Linked DNA regions of Homo sapiens: all the other regions are reported to be linked to region 3. The links are microRNA targets in miRTarBase. Many come from high-throughput screens and were not tested one by one. Region 3 holds a microRNA gene; each other region holds the end of a gene's coding sequence.
The links. Region 3 holds the annotated microRNA hsa-miR-664b-5p (UGGGCUAAGGGAGAUGAUUGGGUA, at 2,089-2,112, opposite strand). A microRNA usually pairs through its seed, bases 2 to 8, with sites in the 3' UTR of a target mRNA and lowers its output. Matches are read on the target gene's strand: a 7mer-m8 pairs with bases 2 to 8, a 7mer-A1 pairs with bases 2 to 7 and ends in A, and an 8mer does both.

Region 1: miRTarBase lists PARP15 as a target of hsa-miR-664b-5p. Seed matches in the 3' UTR shown: 7mer-m8 at 120-126.
Region 2: miRTarBase lists NXPH2 as a target of hsa-miR-664b-5p. Seed matches in the 3' UTR shown: 7mer-m8 at 2,205-2,211.

What each region holds. Positions count from the first base shown.
Region 1 is chr3:122,635,564-122,638,822 of GRCh38, reverse strand. PARP15 (poly(ADP-ribose) polymerase family member 15) reads right to left here. Exons shown (of 12, transcript NM_001113523.3): 12 at 1-3,012. The coding sequence ends at 2,723. Among named protein-coding and RNA genes, the nearest start is that of PARP14, 44 kb to the left of the region's middle. RefSeq lists an enhancer at 2,531-3,259.
Region 2 is chr2:138,668,086-138,671,344 of GRCh38, forward strand. It overlaps NXPH2 (neurexophilin 2), which reads right to left. Exons shown (of 2, transcript NM_007226.3): 2 at 1,072-3,259. The coding sequence ends at 2,837. Among named protein-coding and RNA genes, the nearest start is that of LINC02631, 68 kb to the left of the region's middle. RefSeq lists an enhancer at 2,550-3,259.
Region 3 is chrX:154,767,449-154,770,707 of GRCh38, reverse strand. MIR664B (microRNA 664b) reads right to left here and starts at 2,112; the gene lies at 2,052-2,112. DKC1 (dyskerin pseudouridine synthase 1) reads right to left here. Exons shown (of 15, transcript NM_001363.5): 8 at 2,276-2,406; 9 at 1,398-1,541. It overlaps SNORA36A (small nucleolar RNA, H/ACA box 36A), which reads right to left and starts at 2,180; the gene lies at 2,049-2,180.

The sequences.
Region 1 (3,259 bases), not on the chromosome of region 3:
TAGAAATATGGGATCTAATTAAACTAAAGAGCTTCTGTACAACAAAAGAAACTACCATCAGAGTGAACAGGCAACCTACAGAATGGGAGAAAATTTTTGCAATCTACTCATCTGACAAAGGGCTAATATCCAGAATCTACAATGAACTCAAACAAATATACAAGAAAAAAACAAAGAACCCCATCAAAAAGTGGGCAAAGGATATGAACGGACACTTCTCAAAAGAAGACATTTATGCAGCCAAAAAACACATGAAAAAATGCTCATCATCACTGGCCATCAGAGAAATGCAAATCAAAACAACAATGAGATACCATCCCACACCCGTTAGAATGGCAATCATTAAAAAGTTAGGAAGCAACAGGTGCTGGAGAGGATGTGGAGAAATAGGAACACTTTTACACTGTTGGTGGGACTGTAAACTAGTTCAACCATTGTGGAAGTCAGTGTGGCGATTCCTCGGGGATCTAGAACTAGAAATACCATTTGACCCAGCAATCCCATTACTGGGTATATACCCAAAGGATTATAAATCATGCTGCTGTAAAGACACATGCACACGTATGTTTATTGCGGCACTATTCACAATAGCAAAGACTTGGAACCAACCCAAATGTCCAACAATGATAGACTGGATTAAGAAAATGTGGCACATATACACCATGGAATACTATGCAGCCATAAAAAATGATGAGTTCATGTCCTTTGTAGGGACATGGATGAAGCTGGAAACCATCATTCTCAGCAAACTATCGCAAGGACAAAAAACCAAACACCACATGTTCTCACTCACAGGTGGGAATTGAACAATGAGAACACATGGACACAGGAAGGGGAACATCACACACCGGGGCCTGTTGTGGGGTGGGGAGAGGGGAGAGGGATAGCATTTGGAGATATACCTAATGCTAAATGATGAGTTACTGGGTGCAGCACACCAACATGGCACATGTTTACATATGTAACTAAACTGCACATTGTGCACATGTACCCTAAAACTTAAAGTATAATAAAAAAAGATTAAAAAAAGAAAAATGGTAGAAATAATATTATATGATTTGTGACAGAACAAAATGTGATTTTGACTTTGTTGAATTTGGACAGAGAAGAAACTGGAAGGGAGACATGAGAAATTGGCAGTGGTTTTCCCTTAGTGCTGGAATTATGAGTGAGTTTGGTGAGTTATTTTTCTTTATACTTTTCTGTTCTCTTTAAATGCGCATGTAATTTATTTATGATAATGTAAATACTTCTTAAATGTCTGTAACTCTTCAAAAGTGATGCTTCAGGATAAATGAGCTGCTAAGCATTTTAAGAATTTACGTAACTCTAATATACTGGAGGGAAGGGATGGATCTGAAAGGCTACCATCAGTAAGAGGAATAAAACTTGCTCTGTGTCCTCCAGAAGTCTGGACAGTGATCAGCAGGTAATAGACACAGAGGAACTGATTTCAACTTTTGAAAAAGAGTTTTCCACTAATTAACACTGTCCCACGGCGGAATAGGTTCCCTGAAGATGTTGAGTGCTGAAAGTGATCAAGCAGAGGCTAGAGGGCTTCTTGCCTGGGAGCAGGGGAGGGTTGGGGGAGAAGGACAAGAGGACAGTGGGGTAGGTGACCTCTAGCATCATTGTCACTGCTAATATTCTATCTGTGCATTCATTTGCTCATTCACACAGCTTCCAAGATGGCCCCCAATGATCCTTGCCAGTGGAGTATTCATGCCCTTGTGCAATTCCCTCCCAGACTGAACAAGCTGATCAAAATAATCAACAGGATACTCGTGGAAAAGATGGTGCATGACTTCAAACATAAAGATTTGGTAGCTTCTGCCTTGCTCTCTCTTGAGTTGCTCACTCTGGAGTAAGCCAACTGTTGTGTCATGAGGACACTCAAGCAGCCTGTGGAGAGGCCTGAGAGGAGAGGAACTGAGGACTGCCAATACCTGACAGAAACGTGCCAGGTATGTGAGTGATTCACCTTGGAAATAGACCTCCAGCCCAGACAAGCCTTCAAACGACCACATCCCCTGACATCTTGTCTGTAACTTCAGAGAGACCCTAGCAGAATGATCCAGGTAAGCCATGCCTGAATTCCTGACCCATAAAGACTGTGTGGGATTAAGTCACTAAAATTGGGGGTAATTTTTTAATATTAGATAACAATGCGATACATTTTTACCTGAAATGTAAACAGGTAAAATCTGTTATGATTTGTTCCATAACAGAGTTAATATTCTGTGATTCAGTCATTTCAGCTGAACTATTGACAAGTTTTCCTTAATAAGGCAAAATCCCCAACTGTGATAGATGCATAACGGTAGCCGCTCCACTTAAGCAGTACAGTTTAACCCGCCACCATTCGATGTCTTAACATGTTCCAAGAAGAACAATGTCATCTTGGTTTTAAGGTGATGCATCTTGTTTTTTTCTGATAGAAAAAGAATAATGTGCTTTTTATTCTCCTAGAGATTTGGTGTCTGTGAATGGTTGTAGCTCTGTGACATTTACCATACATTTCTCAGCTTCCACCCATCAATTTGCTGAGAAAAAAAGGTATGCTACAAATCGCAGCAATAGAGCACTTTAAAAAGGTAATTTTCAGCATTTTGGCACCTAAAAGGGAAACTTTCATCTGCTTACACAGGCCAGAAGCAAAGACAAAGATTGCATGTTGTTCTTACAGATGACTTAAATCATCTCTTTGATGATAAAAATATTTTTAAGCCGTGAAAGTTATGAGATATTCTGGGTAAGCCTGATTATCAAAGAATACCACAAATAGCTTTGGAGATCGTGTATTGTTTGTCACTGAGTCAAAGAGATCTGTGGGATTGTGAGGATTCTTGGGTGGAGGGGTGACTAATCCTGCACGTCCCTTTGTGAAGACTCCAGTAAGTACTCGCACAACGTACATGTGCTTTCTCCCATTGCTGTCTGGCTTGGAGTAGGTGTCCTTGGCAGAATAACTGGCATCCACAGCAAAATAGGTTCCTTTTCCATAGGATACAGCTGGAAAGAGAAAGACAAAAACCTTCCTAAGAATATAAAATTACACAATGTGTAGAACCATGCCCAATCTGACAAAATTGTTTTCTAAATGCAGTTTTAGCCAGGTGTGTTGGCTCATGCCTGTAATCCCAACACTTTGGGAGGCTGAGGCAAGAGGATTGCTTAAGGCCAGGAGTTCGAGACCAGCCTGGCTAGCATTATGAGACCCCTTCTCTACAAAAATAAAACAAAATTATTAGCCAGGCAT
Region 2 (3,259 bases), not on the chromosome of region 3:
TATAAGGATTTATCCTGACTTACTTTTCTGTAGTTGCAGTTTTTAAAAAATTTGTGATCATAGATAAATTATTATCCTAAATATTTTAGGGGGAGGTTATTTTCACCGTTTTCAGGTTCAGTTTTGGCTACTGGGTCCTGTCTTGTTATAAACTCATTGCAATTATTTTTGTTGTCTTGAATACCTGCTTCAATTTACCTTTCTTATGTAACGCAAGAGCTGGGACTAGGAGTCAGGAGAAATGCATTTCAGTTGGGTTTGCCATTTACTAGTGGGCACATCATTACCCTCATGGGGACTTGGGTTTTCCTGTCTGTCAAAAAAGAGGATTAAGAAGGTAGTGTAGGCTGCACTCTCTTTGAAATATTACTCTTCTATATGTTAATATGTCTATACGTTTAAAAGTTCTGTTGCTTTAGTTTTTAAACAGTTTGTGACTGAGTGCAAAATTAGCTTCCATGAATATCCTTTTCCTCAATAGCAGTACTAAAGGGCAAAAAATAGTTTTGTAGAAATGTGTGTATTTGCATGCTTAAGTGGGCTCTGATTTATATTGTGCCAAGTACCATTACTGACAATTAGGTATGCTTTGAAATGAAATTATGACTTAGAAATATATGTGGCATATATTCTACTCCAACTTACAAACGAGCTTATGGGAAACTTTTAAAAAATTCCACAAACGCTGCTAACATCTAAGAACTGTATAAATCAATTTACAGTTTTTTTTTTGTTTTTTTTTTTTGCATAGAAATAATGTTCACATCTCTCAACTTTGGAACATCAGATAGTTTTAAACCTCATTACTTCACGTCAAAACAATAATAATCATAATGGCAGCTCACAAGTAGAGTTCTTTCTTACTAGATGCCATGCTATGTACAAAATGTTTTATGTGAGTTATTCTTTTGCCCTACTTTAAAATCTCCACAGCCAAGATGCCTATTTAACATGTATCTAAGGGAAACCTTCTTGTTCAATTGGTATCACACACACACACATGCACAGAATAAGCCCTTGTGAGGAAAAGAAACAAGGAGAACAGAGTCTTTAAAAAATAACCACCCAGGATTAATGTGACAGATCTAGCAAATTCTTTTTATTTACATAAAATGTGTACACATACTTTCTCTGTACACAGAAAATTCTAAGTATATATATATAGATATATGATTCCCACATATTTTACAATAAATAATATTTTACTCTTGTTTCTAGGTGAAAATAAAAAGATGTTTCAAAATATTAATCACCAACCACAAAATTACAAAAACATGTGGTGAACTCAGAGCAAGAACTTCAAGCCTGTACTACCACACACTAAGCTTAGTACAATTTTTACAAAAGACAAAAATTGAACACTGCAGATATTACCGGTAAAAGGAAAGAAATGAAGATAGAGAACAGAGCTCTTGGTTTTTTGAACAGTGTGGTAAGAGTATTTCTTGTTGTTTAGGACTTCTCTTCCTTTAGTCCTCAATTTAATGTTTTACTTTAATTAATATTTTACAGATAAGAAGGGAGAAAGAAGTTAACATCTATTGTAAAAGGAGTGACCATTCCATGAGCGTCCTGAGTTCTAGAAGCCTTTTTCTTGGCCAACCAGACCCCTGTTTCTGTTCTAATTTAATGATCATTCAGTTCTACCATATAGGACTGCTATTCACCCCCACAGGGAAGATGAGAAGGGCACTGACTGTGAAGTGACATTAATTTGAAAGTCATTTCAAAAGTCTGGTAAGCCAGGTATCTTGGTTGTCAGCACTTAATAATTAGAAATGTTTAAATATAACTCTCTATTTCCACATAGAGTTTGATCTCTTATTCAAATATTAACTAAATGCAAGGGGAACTTAATCTGGGAGGCTAGAAATAATGAATCCATAATCCTGAAATTTCCTCCCTCTACTTCCCACTTTTGTTTTCTATTCTAGTCTAGGAAACAAGCACTTTCACTCAACTTCAGAGCTGTTCTACACATGTGTAAAGAATCACACTATCGAATGAATTGAATAAAGCTCTAAGCTATAGGATGCATACAAATTTTGTCATTTTTTGATTAATTCCACAGCATTTGAATTTATCAGAAGAGTCTAAAAACATCATGATTTTTGTTATCGTTCAACAAACTTATTCTCAGATTTGCTTTCCCATTACATCAGTATTCAAACTCAGGGGGAATCATAAGAATGGTGACCAACACAGGGCTAAGTGCTCAAATCACATTCCACGCAACTGTAGCTCAGATGATAAGGAACTTGGTTCCACTGTGGCACTGTAACTTCACACATGAATTTTGAAACAAATTTTACCTTTTTTTCTCTCATATCAATAACAGCACAGATGGATGGGGGAAAAGATAGAAATATAAAAAAAAGGGTCCAATGTCAAAAACACAATTCATCTATCAAATACAATCTTTTCCTTTACCGCATCTGCTGTTTCTGCGGTAACCTTCCAAAACATATTTCAAAGGCAGGCTCATTTCAAGAGCAATGTTTGTCACATGCATAATTTTGTTCCTTCTTGTCACATATTGCTATCATTGATGTTTCTTTCAGAGAAACAATAAGATTTCTAGAACTTAGTCATCTTGCATGAAAGTGATGGTTTCATAAACAGTTTAACTTTTTAGATAAAGGTACCTACGATAGAAAGAAACAAATTTCACACTTAAAGATGTCTCTTTTTCTTTTTTTAAATTTGAAAACCTGATAGGGAACTATTGTTCACTGCCAGAAACAAAAGGGATCCTTTATCATAAAGAGCTGGGCTTGTTTCTTTGTCATTCTAATCAAATACATATGTATCCCTCATTTCCACCACAGCAGGAAGATCAGCCAGAAGATAAGTATGGGGTCTCACTATGGTAATTGTAGTCAGGGCACACCTTTTGCACGAGTTTATAATCAACACTGTAAAAGGCAATGTAAATGCAAATGACCTTGAAGGGCTTGGAGCACAACCAAGACACATGGCTCTGAGTCTGCTCCTGGTAGCAGATCTTGGATGGGTCAAAGTTGCACAGGGCGGTCTTTTTCGCCCGATCTGTTTTTTCATACTCAATGCGACAATTGAAAGATTTGGATTCCTTGGTCTCCAAGGTAGACTGGGGGGAAACTTCAAATTCCACCACCTTGGAGGGTGGTACCAAGCTCACTGAAACATTGCCCAGGCCTGTTGAATTATGTCGGAAATACACACTGAAGGTTCCATTTCCATGGTCAACAATTTTCCCTGTGATGAGGAGATTGAGTTT
Region 3 (3,259 bases):
CTCCCACACCAGAGTAAAGGAGGACAACAAGGGAGTGGGGCCTGACACCAGGAAACAGGGATGACACTTATAGCCCACTAGCTGCAAGGGGCATGAGTGGTACTCAGAAGAGCCACCTCACTGTGCTATAGGTACCACTCTCCGCACATTACACACGACTCAAAAGTAGTAAAGAAGACTTTCAGGTTTTCAGGTTCTAGAGACTCACAAGTATTTTCTTTTTTTTTTTTTTTTTTTTTTAATTTTCAGGCAGAACCTCCCTCTGTTGTCCAGGGTGGAGTGCAGTGGCACATTCTCGGCTCACTGCAACCTCCATCTCCCAAGTTCAAGTGATTCTCAGCCTCCCAAGGAGCTGGGATTACAGGCACGTGCCACCACGCCCAGCTAATTTTTGTATTTTTAATAGAGACAGGGTTTCACCATATTGCCCAGGCTGGTCTCAAACTCCTGAGCTCAAGCAATTTGCCTGGCCCGGCCTCCCAAAGTGCTGGGATTATGGGTGTGAGCCACCGCACGTGGTCCATATTTTCATTTGAAACATAAAAATAGCCTTGGCATTCCTTAATTACTCCTCTCTCCTCCTTATGAGGAGAAAGAACAGATTTACTGGAGATCCAGGCAATAACAGGCTCTTAAAGAACTTGAAAACAAGATTACTGAGCCCTGTTGAACCAATCACACAAAAGTCTTGGTGCAGAATTTATAGGTCAGTGGGTACAAGTTAAGGCTACCTCTCCAGAGGTTCAATGGTACCCAATGCACCCATCTGCCTCATACCATCTCCACTCACCTAGACCTCTTTTGATCACATTCTCCCCTCCCTTTACATTCACCCAGAAGCCAATGGTTTGATAAGGAGAGGACATCACATTTATGTTGTCCACTGTTTTGTGACTGAGTTTTTTCAACTATTATGGTGCCATCTTTCAGTATTTATTACAGCCTATACACATACAAAAAATGTGAACATCTATACAAGATTTGAATATAAATAATTACCAACTACAAACATTTTAAATATCCAGAAATTTTTATCCCTCAAGTTAGAGAAAAAGACAATGTTTTAATTTATAAAAGGCCAACTCTCTGATCATCATAAAAACACAGCTCACAGCCTTGATCTCCTGGGCTCAAGCTGGTCTCAAACTCCTTCCTGGACTCAAGTGATCCTCTTGCCTCAGCCTGCCAAAGTGCTAGGATTATAGGCATCAGCCACTGTGCCTGGCCTAATGTGCCTTATTTTTAAGTATGCCTACCATTAAACTTTTACTTTAAATTAATATACTTGGTTTGGACTTGAAAAAAATAAAATAAAACCCAAGGAAAACAATAAAAAGAGCAAGCCTCATCTTTGGAGTACGTTCTTTCCAAATATAAACTCCTAACCCGGAACTTACTGCACTGTCTTTCATAACCAGCCGTTTATGAGATGTCAACAGCTTTTCCAAAGGGTAAACAACTCGCCGCAGGTAACTCTCATCCTTGTGGTTATCATACAGCCACTGAGCATCAAGCACATCATGCATTGTCACCATGTGGTCCTGAAAAGCAGCCATGTATGAAAATAATTCAGTTTATTTGTATCTCAGCCCATCAGACCCCAAACTTCCTAAAACTGAATGTCACTTGTTTACTAGTCCAAGCTCATTATGTCTTCAGCCTCTTCAGTCCTGGCTCTTCCAGGCATCTTTTTTTTTTTTTTTTTTTTTTTTTTGAGACGGAGTCTCGCTCTGTCGCCCAGGTGGGACTGCGGACTGCAGTGGCGCAATCTCGGCTCACTGCAAGCTCCGCTTCCCGGGTTCACGCCATTCTCCTGCCTCAGCCTCCCGAGTAGCTGGGACTACAGGCGCCCGCCACCGCGCCCGGCTAATTTTTTTTGTATTTTTAGTAGAGACGGGGTTTCACCTTGTTAGCCAGGATGGTCTCGATCTCCTGACCTCATGATCCACCCGCCTCGGCCTCCCAAAGTGCTGGGATTACAGGCGTGAGCCACCGCGCCCTCTTCCAGGCATCTTTAACCGTTGAAGTATTAGACCCCAAGCAGGCATTTTTGTAGGCTGGGAGGCAAATGAATAGAATAATACTTTCTACCCAATCATCTCCCTTAGCCCATTTTAATGTCCCAAAGTTTAATTAACAGAACAGGGAAGCTGCCCTGGACTGAACTCAACACTTTGGAAAGCATCTTTCCCACGACATGAAGCAAGTGGAGTGCCATCAAAGGCTGGCAGATGGTAAGAACCAGCTCTAAAACTTCTAGCCCCGTAACACATACCTTTTCACTCATGACTCCAGAACGAACCCTCCGAAGCTCCTGCATCTGACCACCAACTCCCAATAACAAACCAAGGTGCACACATAATGTCCGAATGTAGGTGCCAGCCTCACAACTCACCCAAAAGATTCCTAAGATACACACACACAAAAGAAAAGCAGCACCTACTGTAAATACATCACTGGTTGAGAAATGCAGTTATCCTTCATCTGAGCCACCAAGACTAGAGGTGACAGACACACTTCTTAAAATATAAGCATTTGCTGTAAAGATCTGTAATTCTGGCCAGGCACGGTGGCTCACGCCTGTAATTCCAGCACTTTGGGAGGCAGAGGCGGGTGGATCACGACGTCAGGAGATCAAGACCATCCTGGCTAACATGGTGAAACCCCGTCTCTACTAAATGTACAAAAAATTAGCCGGGCATGATGGCGGGCGCCTATAGTCCCAGCTACTTGGGAGGCTGAGGCAGGAAAATGGTGTGAACCCGGGAGACAGAGTTTGCAGTGAGCCGAGATCATGCCACCGCACTCCAGCCTGGGCGACAGAGCGAGACTCCGTCTCAAAAAAAAAAAAAAAAAAAAAAAAAGATCTGTAATTCTGATATTAGCAGAATTTTTAACACTTAAGTTGCAGGTATATTCAGCATGGTATGTTTCATGGATGGGAGGAAAATTGGCATTGTCTTAAATTTACTTCTGACAACAGAAACTTCTAAGCAGTCAAAATTGCAACAAATAAAAAACACATGCAAAACATACTTTGGTGAAAACACTTACCTTTGAACAAAGCACCGAACTACACAAATGCAGAATGAAAACATTTCAACTCCAGCAGAAGCAGTCATCATAAAAGGTGTAAAAGCCATCTCACTTTACTAGGCACTGTTCACTTTTTCAACAAAAGATAACAAAAACTATCGCCCACAGACAATATCCCAGCTGTAGGGCAGGTTTTAGAAAGTCTTCAACTTCAAGGGCATCT